Regions from separate parts of the Homo sapiens genome. Here region 1 is linked to region 2. Evidence: fine-mapped expression QTL. A gene starts in region 2. The other region holds a variant in brackets. All regions are shown on one strand. Distances are from middle to middle. Region 1 has its middle 33 kb from the start of DACT2. Region 2 holds the start of DACT2 (dishevelled binding antagonist of beta catenin 2).

Region 1 (4,390 bases), 32 kb after region 2:
TGCCCGGTGGGGATCTGGGTTCCAGATGGAATGCTGCGTGTTGTCCACGACTTGTTGTGGCTGGGGTTACTGCAGCAACCGCCAGAGCAGCCTTGGCGCTACGGAGGACCCTAGGGCTACCCCTCAGCCGTGCTTGGGGCTGATCCTGGAGTTGCGACGCAGGGTTGTGGCAGCACTGCCTGACGGTATGAGACCGGATTCTCATCCTTACGGTTTTCCATGGGAATTGGTGATACATGCAGCTGCTGTTGGATTTTTTGCTGTTCCCTTTTTTTTGTGGAGAAGTTTTAGATCTGTTAGGAGTCGGCTTTATGTGGGAAGAGAGAAAAAACTTGCTGTAGCGCTTTCTGGACTAATTGAAGAAAAATGTAAACTACTTGAAAAATTTAGCCTCGTTCAAAAAGCGTATGAAGGCTATGAAGTAGCGTCATCGTTAGAGGATGCCAGCTTTGAGAAGGCGGCAGCAGAAGCACAAAGTTTGCAGGCAACCTGTGAAAAGCTGAACAGGTCAAATTCTGAGCTTGAGCATGAAATACTCTGTCTAGAAAAAGAGTTAAAAGAAGAGAAATCTAAACATTCTGAAAGAGATGAACTGATAGCAGATATTTCCAAAAGGATACAGTTGCTGGAAGATGCGTCAAAATCCCTCAAATCACAAATAGCTAAAGGCAAAATGACTTTCAAGACATTTCACATGAACGGAGAACAACTGAAGATAACAATAGAAGATGCTTTGAATGAAAATTCTCAACTTCAGGAAAACCAGAAACAGCTTTTGCAAGAAGCTGAAGTATGGAAAGAAGAAGTGAGTGAACTTAATAAACAGAAAAGAACATTTGAAGACTCCAAAGTACACACAGAACAAGTTCTAAGTGATAAAGAAAATCGCATCGAGACTCTGACCGAACGTTTGCTAAAGATGAAAGATTGGGCTGCGAGGCTTGGAGAAGACACAACGGATGATGGTAACTTAGAAGTGAACAGTGAATCGGAAGATGGTGCTCACTCAGATGATCCCTCCAAAGGAGCTTTGAAGAAGCTGATTCCTGCCGCTAAGTTAAATGCTTCTTTGAAACCTTAGAAGGAGAAAGAAACCAAATTTATATTCAGTTATCTGAAGTTGATAAAACAAAGGAAGAGCTTACAGAGCATATTAAAAATCTTCAGACTGAACAAGCATCTTTGCAGTTAGAAAACACACATTTTGAAAGTGAGAATCAGAAGCTTCAACAGAAACTTAAAGTAATGACTGAATTATATAAAGAAAATGAAATGAAACTCTACAGGAAATTAATAGTAGAGGAAAATAGCCGGTTAGAGAAAGAAGAGAAACTTTCTAAAGTAGACTAAATGAGCAGCCATGCCACTAAAGAGCTGGAGACCTACAGACAGCGAGCCAAAGATCTTGACAAATTTGACAGAAATATTCATTTTTATCAAAGGAAGATTATTTCCCATGAGAAAAAGGCACATCATAACTGGTTGGCAGCTTGGGCTGCTGAAAGAAACCTCGACGATTTAAGGAAAGAAAATGCTCACAACAGACAAAAATTAGCTGAAACAGAGTATAAAATAAAACTTCTAAAAAAAGATCCGTATGCACTTGATGTTCCAAATACTGCATTTGGCAGAGAGCATTCCCCATATGGTCCCTCACCACTGGGTCGGCCTTCATCTGAAACGAGAGCTTTTCTCTATCCTCCAACTCTGTGGAAGGGTCCACTCAGACTCTCACCTTCGCCTCCAGGGGGAGAAGGAAGAGGCTCAAGAGGCCCAGGGAATCCTCCGGACCATCAGATTACCAAGGAAAGAGGAGAATCAAGCTGTGATAGGTTAACCGATCCTCACAGGGCTCCTTCTGACACTGGGTCCCTGTCACCTCCATGGGAACAGGACCATAGGATGATGTTTCCTCCACCAGGACCATCATATCCTGATTCAGCTCTTCCTCCACAAAGGCAAGACAGATTTTACTCTAACTCTGGTAGACTGTCTGGACCAGCAGAACTCAGAAGTTTTAATATGCCTTCTTTGGATAAAATGGATGGGTCAATGCCTTCAGAAATGGAATCCAGTAGAAATGACACCAAAGATGATCTTGGTAATTTAAATGTGCCTGATTCATCTCTCCCCGCTGAAAATGAAGCAGCTGGCCCTGGCTTTGTTCCTCCACCTCTTGCTCCAATCAGAGGTCCACTGTTTCCAGTGGATACAAGGGGCCCGTTCATGAGAAGAGCACCTCCTTTCCCCCCACCTCCTCCAGGAACCAGGTT[T/G]GGAGCTTCTCGAGATTATTTTCCACCAGGGGATTTCCCAGGTCCACCACATGCTCCGTTTGCAATGAGAAACGTCTATCCACCGAGGGGTTTTCCTCCTTACCCTCCCCCAAGACCTGGATTTTTCCCCCCGCCCCCACATTCTGAGGGTTGAAGTGAGTTCCCTTCAGGGCTGAGTCCGCCTTCAGATGAGCCTGCTACGGAACATCAGAACCACAGCAAGAAACCTGACAATATTTTTGCTCTCTTCAAAAGTCATTTTCACTGATCTCATTTTCAGTTTAAGTAACTGCTGTTACTCAAGTGATTACACTTTTGCTCATATTGAAACTTAATGGAATTATAATTCTTAGGATAGTATTTTGTAAATAAGGATGATTTAAATATGAATCTTATGAATAAATTGTTTCCATTTTATTTTATTCTAGATAGTATAACTATTTTAATTTGATTAACTAGTCCACTATTATATAAAAATAGTAGGAGTTTTATATATGTAATCTTGCAGGTGGGGAGGCTTTAAATTCTAAAGGCCTTGTCTTTATGCCAAGAACTGTATTTACTGTGGCTGTAGGCAAATGTGTAAGTAACTTTATGCTTAATTAAATAAATTTTAGTTGATTTAAGAAATAAAAAAAGAAAGAAAAGGGAGGTGAGAAGACAGAGGCCAAGCACTGTGTGGACTTAGGTGCTCGACGCACAGCGTGCTCGTGCTCAGGTCTGGGGTCACCCTCTCATTCTTGTGCCCCGGGTTGAAGCACACAGCAAGGACAGACCCAGACACCAGGCAATGAGTCAGTTCAAGGGAGGAGCTGACCGTTCCGAGCTCAGGCTGTGCTGAAGGTCCCCAGAGTCGGGCACTTTTGTCCTCTGCCTCATCAGTGTGAGCTCTTGGCTTCAGTTCCCACACAAGCAAAGACGCTGACAGCAGCGTTGTGTGGGATCCCGGAAAATGGGCCCAGCTTGCGGATCAGTAGAAGAAGACTCACCAAATTCTGGGTTGTTGTAGCTTGGAATATAGTGCAGACATTAGGATAATCGTTTTGGATATCTCAACAAGAAAGGGATTTTGTAAGATGGCAAATACTATAAAAATGTGTAACATAGCAGAGTACAAAGGCTGAATAGAGAATAGGAGATCGAGATTAGAGAAGATTGGGGAATAGCGGTTATAGGAGGCTCCAGCCATATAAAAATGCGAGCACAAGAGGCCGTCAGAACTTTATTCTTTTAATCACTGAGGGGAAGTGCTTTTTGCCCAATTTTCCTATCAAGTTTTCATACCATTTTTATAAAGGAACAGAGTTTTCCAGTCACGGAAGGAAACATTTCCCATGCCAGTCCCAGGCAGCGGCGTCTTGCGTGGTTAATCCTGAGCGGGGCAGCTTGGGTGGATCCCGGTTTTAGGCTGACGCGCTGCATGAATCCAGACGACCTCCTGGCTCCTGGCGGTCTGGCCTGCTCGGTGTGGATTGGGGGTGTCATTACCTGGCCCGCGGAGGGATGCGATAATGCCGAGGTGTCTGCACTAGCAGAGTTAGAGGACGTGCTCCATAAATGGTCACTGTCGTTATGAACACGATCAGGTGCTGGGGTTGCCGGCAGCGTTAGTTCCGTGGGCATACTCCTTATTTGAGGTGCATCATTTTTTTGTTAAGTTAAAATGTACTATCTTTGTATAAGTTTTCGAGGGCTGCCATAATTAAGAACCACAGCCTGGGTGACCTAAACAGCAGGAATTTGTCGTCTCCCAGGCCTGGAGGTCCAACGTCCGAGATCAAGATGCCGCAGGGCTGTGGGTTCTCTGAAGGAGCAGGGGAAGGGTGTGCTCCAGGCCTCTCTCCGTAGCCTGCAGACAGCCGTCTTCCCCTCTGTGTCTGTCTGTCTCTATGTCCAGATTGCTCCTTCTTATGAGAACACCAGTCATATTGGTTTAGGGCCACCCTAATAATCACTCTCTAACATAATCACCACTGTAGCAGCCCTATTTTCAAATAGAGTCACATTCCGAGATACTGGGGGTTAGGATGCCAACATATGCTTTTTGGGGGCAGACACAGTTCAACCCATAACAGTCATTTATCTAAAGACTTTGAAAATTCTTGCAAATTAGGAAA
Region 2 (4,390 bases):
GAAGGAGAAGGAGAAGGAGAAGGAGAGGAAGAGGAAGAGGAAGAGGAAGAGGAAGAAGAAGAAGAAGAAGAAGAAGAAGAAGAAGAAGAAAAAAGAATCAAAAGACACAGATCAGCCAAAACAATCTTGGAAAAGAAAAAATTGGAGGACTCACATTTCCTGACTTCAAAACTTATTACAAGGCTACAATGATTGAAACAGTGTGGTACTGGCATAAGAATAGACATATATTGCAACGCAACAGAACTGAGAAACCAGAAACTGATTTCTGGATCAACTGATTTTCAACAAGGGTCCCAAGACAATTCAACAGGGAAAGAATTGTTTTTTCAACAAATGGTACTAGGACAACTGGGTATGTAAAAGAAGGGGCCCCTACCTCACACCATATACAGAAATTAATGCAAAATAGAACAAAGGCTTAAATGTAAGTGCTAAGTCTACAGCAAAATCTTAGAAATCATAGCTGTAAACTTTGTCTTTGGATTAGACAATGCTCTGTTAGATCACCCAAAGCATAAGGAACAACAACAAAGTAGATACACTGGAATTCACCAAAATTACAAACATTTTTTGCTGCAAAGGACACTATCAAGAACATGAAAAAAACTCACAACATGGAAAAATTATTTGTCAATCATGTATTTCATAAGGGAAGTGCAAATCATGTCTGATAAGGGAATTGTATAATGAATACTCACATCTCAATAACGAAAAGACAACCTAAATTTTAAAATGGGCCAAGGATCTGAATAGACAGTTCTCCAAAGGAAGTATACAACAAGCACATGGAAAGATGCTCAACGTCCTTAGCCATCGGGGAAACACAAATCAAAACCACAGGGAGATACCACTTCACATCTGCTGGACTAAAGACAGCGGTTGGTGTGCACACTGAGGAAATGGAACCCTCATACCCCGCTGGCTGCTGTGATTCCACTTGGAAAGCAGCCTGGCAGCTCCTCACAAGATTAAGCACGGTAGTCACCTACGATCCAGCCATTCCTCTCTTAGGTATAATGAAAACATATTGCCACACAAAAACTCATACAGGAATGTCCTTGCAGCGTTATTCGTAATAGCTAAAAAATGGAACAACTCACATGTCATCAGCAGATGAATGGATAAACAAAACTTGGCACAGCCATGCAGTGGAGTATTATTCAGCCACACAAAGGAATACAGTTCTGACGCAATCTGCAGCACAGACGCACCTTGAAAACGCTCACCAAAAGGAGCCCCCACAGAGACCTCCTGGCGTGTGACCCCATTTCCATGAACTTCCAGAACCTGCGGGGTGGTGGTTCTATGTGTGGGGGTGCAGGAGAGGGAATGGGGGTAGCTACCGATGAGAACAGGGTTTCTTTTGGGGGTGGTGAACACAACTTCGTTAATATACTAAAAACGAACTGTACACCTTAAATTAGGTGAGTTTTATGGTATGTGAACTGCATCTTAAGCAATTATTTTAAAAATTTAAAAAGCAAGCTGAGCAGCCTGGCCAACATGGTGAAACCCCATCTGTACTAAAAATACAAAAATTAGCCAGGTATGGTGGTAGGCGCCTGTAGTCCCAGCTACTCGGGAGGCTGAGGCAGGAGAATCGCTTGAACCCGGGAGGCAGAGGTTGCAGTGAGAGGAGATCGCGCCACTGCACTCCAGCCTGGGCGACAGAGCGAGACACTGTCTCAAAAAAAAAAAAAAAAAAAAAAAAAAAAAAAAAAAAGCGAGGTGCGGTTTCCAAACTGCAGATACCCATTGGGAAACGTGGGTAACACGGTTTTGAAATCTCTACTGCGTCTGTAATGGTAACACGGTCCTTGCAATGTGATAATGTCCCAATAGTTTATCTTTATAAACATTTTAAAACATTAACAAGCCTTTCTCCGCCTTTGTTCCACTTGCGCCTCTTTGCCCCTCTCCCCCGGGCTCCTCCTCCCGGCTGGCCCTCCCCGCTGAAGTCACGGAGGCGCTCAGCTGGCCCCGGGGTCTGGGTGCGCCCGCCCTGCCCGCAGCCGGCGAGGGGCCCTGGGGGGTCGGCGGGGCGGGTCCGGGGGAGGCCGCGGTGACCTCGGGGCGCGTGCAGACCCCGCCCTCCGCGCCTGGCCACAGATTCCAGCCCACCTTGGCGACCTGCGGAGCCGGGGGCGGAGAGAGGAGGCGCAGGAGGACCCGCGACACAGCTCGGGATCCGCGCGCGCTGGGCCTCCGGCGCCGCTCGTGGGGTTCGGGAGGCCGGGACCCTGCCCGGGAGATGTGGACGCCGGGCGGACCCCCGGGGTCCGCGGGCTGGGACCGCCGTAGGTTGGGCGCGAGGTTGCGCGCGGCGTTCGCGGGGCTGCAGGAGCTGCAGGGGCTGCGAGCCACGCAGCAGGAGCGGGTACGGGGCGCCCTGGCCCTGCAGCCCCCGCCCGCGCCCGCCGCGCCCTGCGGCCCCCACGGCCTCCACGGCCCCGAGCAGCAGCTGGAGGCGGCGCTGGCCGCGCTGCAGGAGCAGCTGGTAAGGACCGGGCGCCGGGACTCGGGGCTGCGAGGTGTGCGGGCCACAGGCGCTGCTCCTTCGGCAGCGACTGTGTGTTAGTGGGACGGGGGTGTCTGATGGATGGAGGGGACGTCCTTTGGGATTTGAATGGAATGCAGTTCGGTCTCCAAGGAGGGGGACATGGAGGCCCCGCGCGCAGGTGCCTAGAGGTGAAGCGCACAGGTGAGGACCCTGAAAACTGCCCGGGGCTGCAGCCCGCGCTCCGCCGTGCGTGGATGTGCGCCTACCCACGCCAGCATCCCGAAGCTGGCAGATTTGGGAGAGACACCCTGTTCGTTACAGGGTTACAGCACTGATCTGACCTGCAGGCACTGACCGGCGTTCCCCTGGCGGAGGTCGGCTCGGGATCCTGGCATCACTCCCCCCCCGGGGACCAGGTCCCCCCTGCTGTCTTGGGTTAGGGGCAACAGTGTCCGCGTGGTAAAGCGCACCCCGACTTGTCCTCAGGAATGTGCTGACTTTTCTTAAGGTCGCGTCACTGTAATAAAGTATTGGGGGAAAGCATGTAACTGACAAAGGCCTCTTCAACTTTAAAATGTGACCTGACCTGTAAGGAGAGGCGTGTCCTCTGATCCAGAGGAGAGAGACTCTGATTTCCCTGCCACGGGCCCTCTTCAGCACTCCCTGGGCGCTCTGAACCCCTCCTTTCACACAATGAAAGGAACTCCACTCATTACCCCTCTGCTTATTATGTTATTGTATGATTTTGTTAAACTTACTGGAAACAACTCACAAGCGTTTTCGTAGTTGCTGTATTTTCTTAAAGACAAACTAAAAAGGCTGGAGAAAGATATGTTTACTTGTGTTACCTCTGTTACACTAAGTGAAATTTCTTTTACATTAGAAATTTAAGTCTGTCCTGTTAAAAGTTACTGCCTTTAAATGTTGCCCAGGTGAAGCTGCGGCATGACCGTCTGCCTCGCTCGCTCAGCCAGGTTGTTAACATAGCAAACCCTTCTGGATTAAAGAATCAGGAAGTCCAGTGTCTGGGACGCCTCCCAGGTTCCCCGTTATCTCCTGACCTTGTGGAAGACGGAGGTGGTAGACTGTGTGGGATTAACCTGGGCCCCCAACTCTGCCCCTGATGCCTCCTGAGAGGAAAGTAGCTGGTGTACAGACTTTGTTTACTCACCCAGTGACCAAATCCTGGCCGTCTGTTTAGGTCGTTTGTGTGTTTGCACCAGACACAATCGCAGCCTCTGTGTGACCTCAGCTCAGCACACGACAGCCACAGACGTGTTACACATATGTGATGGGAAGGGAGGTGCTGCTGAGATGTTGTGTGTTTGCACCAGACACAATCGCAGCTTCTGCGTGACCTCAGCTCAGCACACGACAGCCACAGACGTGTTACACACATGTGATGGGAAGGGAGGTGCTGCCGAGATGCTGTTGTGTGTTTGCACCAGACACAATCGCAGCTTCTGCGTGACCTCAGCTCAGCACACGACAGCCACAGACGTGTTACACACATGGGAAGGGAGGTGCTGCCGAGATGCTGTTGTGTGTTTGCACCAGACACAATCGCAGCTTCTGCGTGACCTCAGCTCAGCACACGACAGCCACAGACGTGTTACACACATGGGAAGGGAGGTGCTGCCGAGATGCTGTTGTGTGTTTGCACCAGACACAATCGCAGCTTCTGCGTGACCTCAGCTCAGCACACGACAGCCACAGACGTGTTACACACATGGGAAGGGAGGTGCTGCCGAGATGCTGTTGTGTGTTTGCACCACACACAATCGCAGCTTCTGCGTGACCTCAGCTCAGCACACGACAGCCACAGACGTGTTACACACATGGGAAGGGAGGTGCTGCCGAGATGCTGTTGTGTGTTTGCAGCTCAGC

What was found. PIP is the estimated chance that this variant, and not a neighbour inherited with it, causes the effect. A credible set is the group of variants that fine-mapping cannot tell apart.
Region 1: its variant is the best candidate, but not a certain one, in a credible set for the expression of DACT2 in hippocampus (GTEx, PIP 0.66).

Annotation. Positions count from the first base shown.
Region 1 is chr6:168,285,019-168,289,408 of GRCh38, reverse strand. It overlaps the pseudogene CTAGE13P. Among named protein-coding and RNA genes, the nearest start is that of DACT2, 33 kb to the left of the region's middle. The variant T/G (reference allele first, on the strand shown) is at 2,274.
Region 2 is chr6:168,317,498-168,321,887 of GRCh38, reverse strand. DACT2 (dishevelled binding antagonist of beta catenin 2) reads left to right here and starts at 2,111. Exons shown (of 4, transcript NM_214462.5): 1 at 2,111-2,500. The coding sequence starts at 2,255.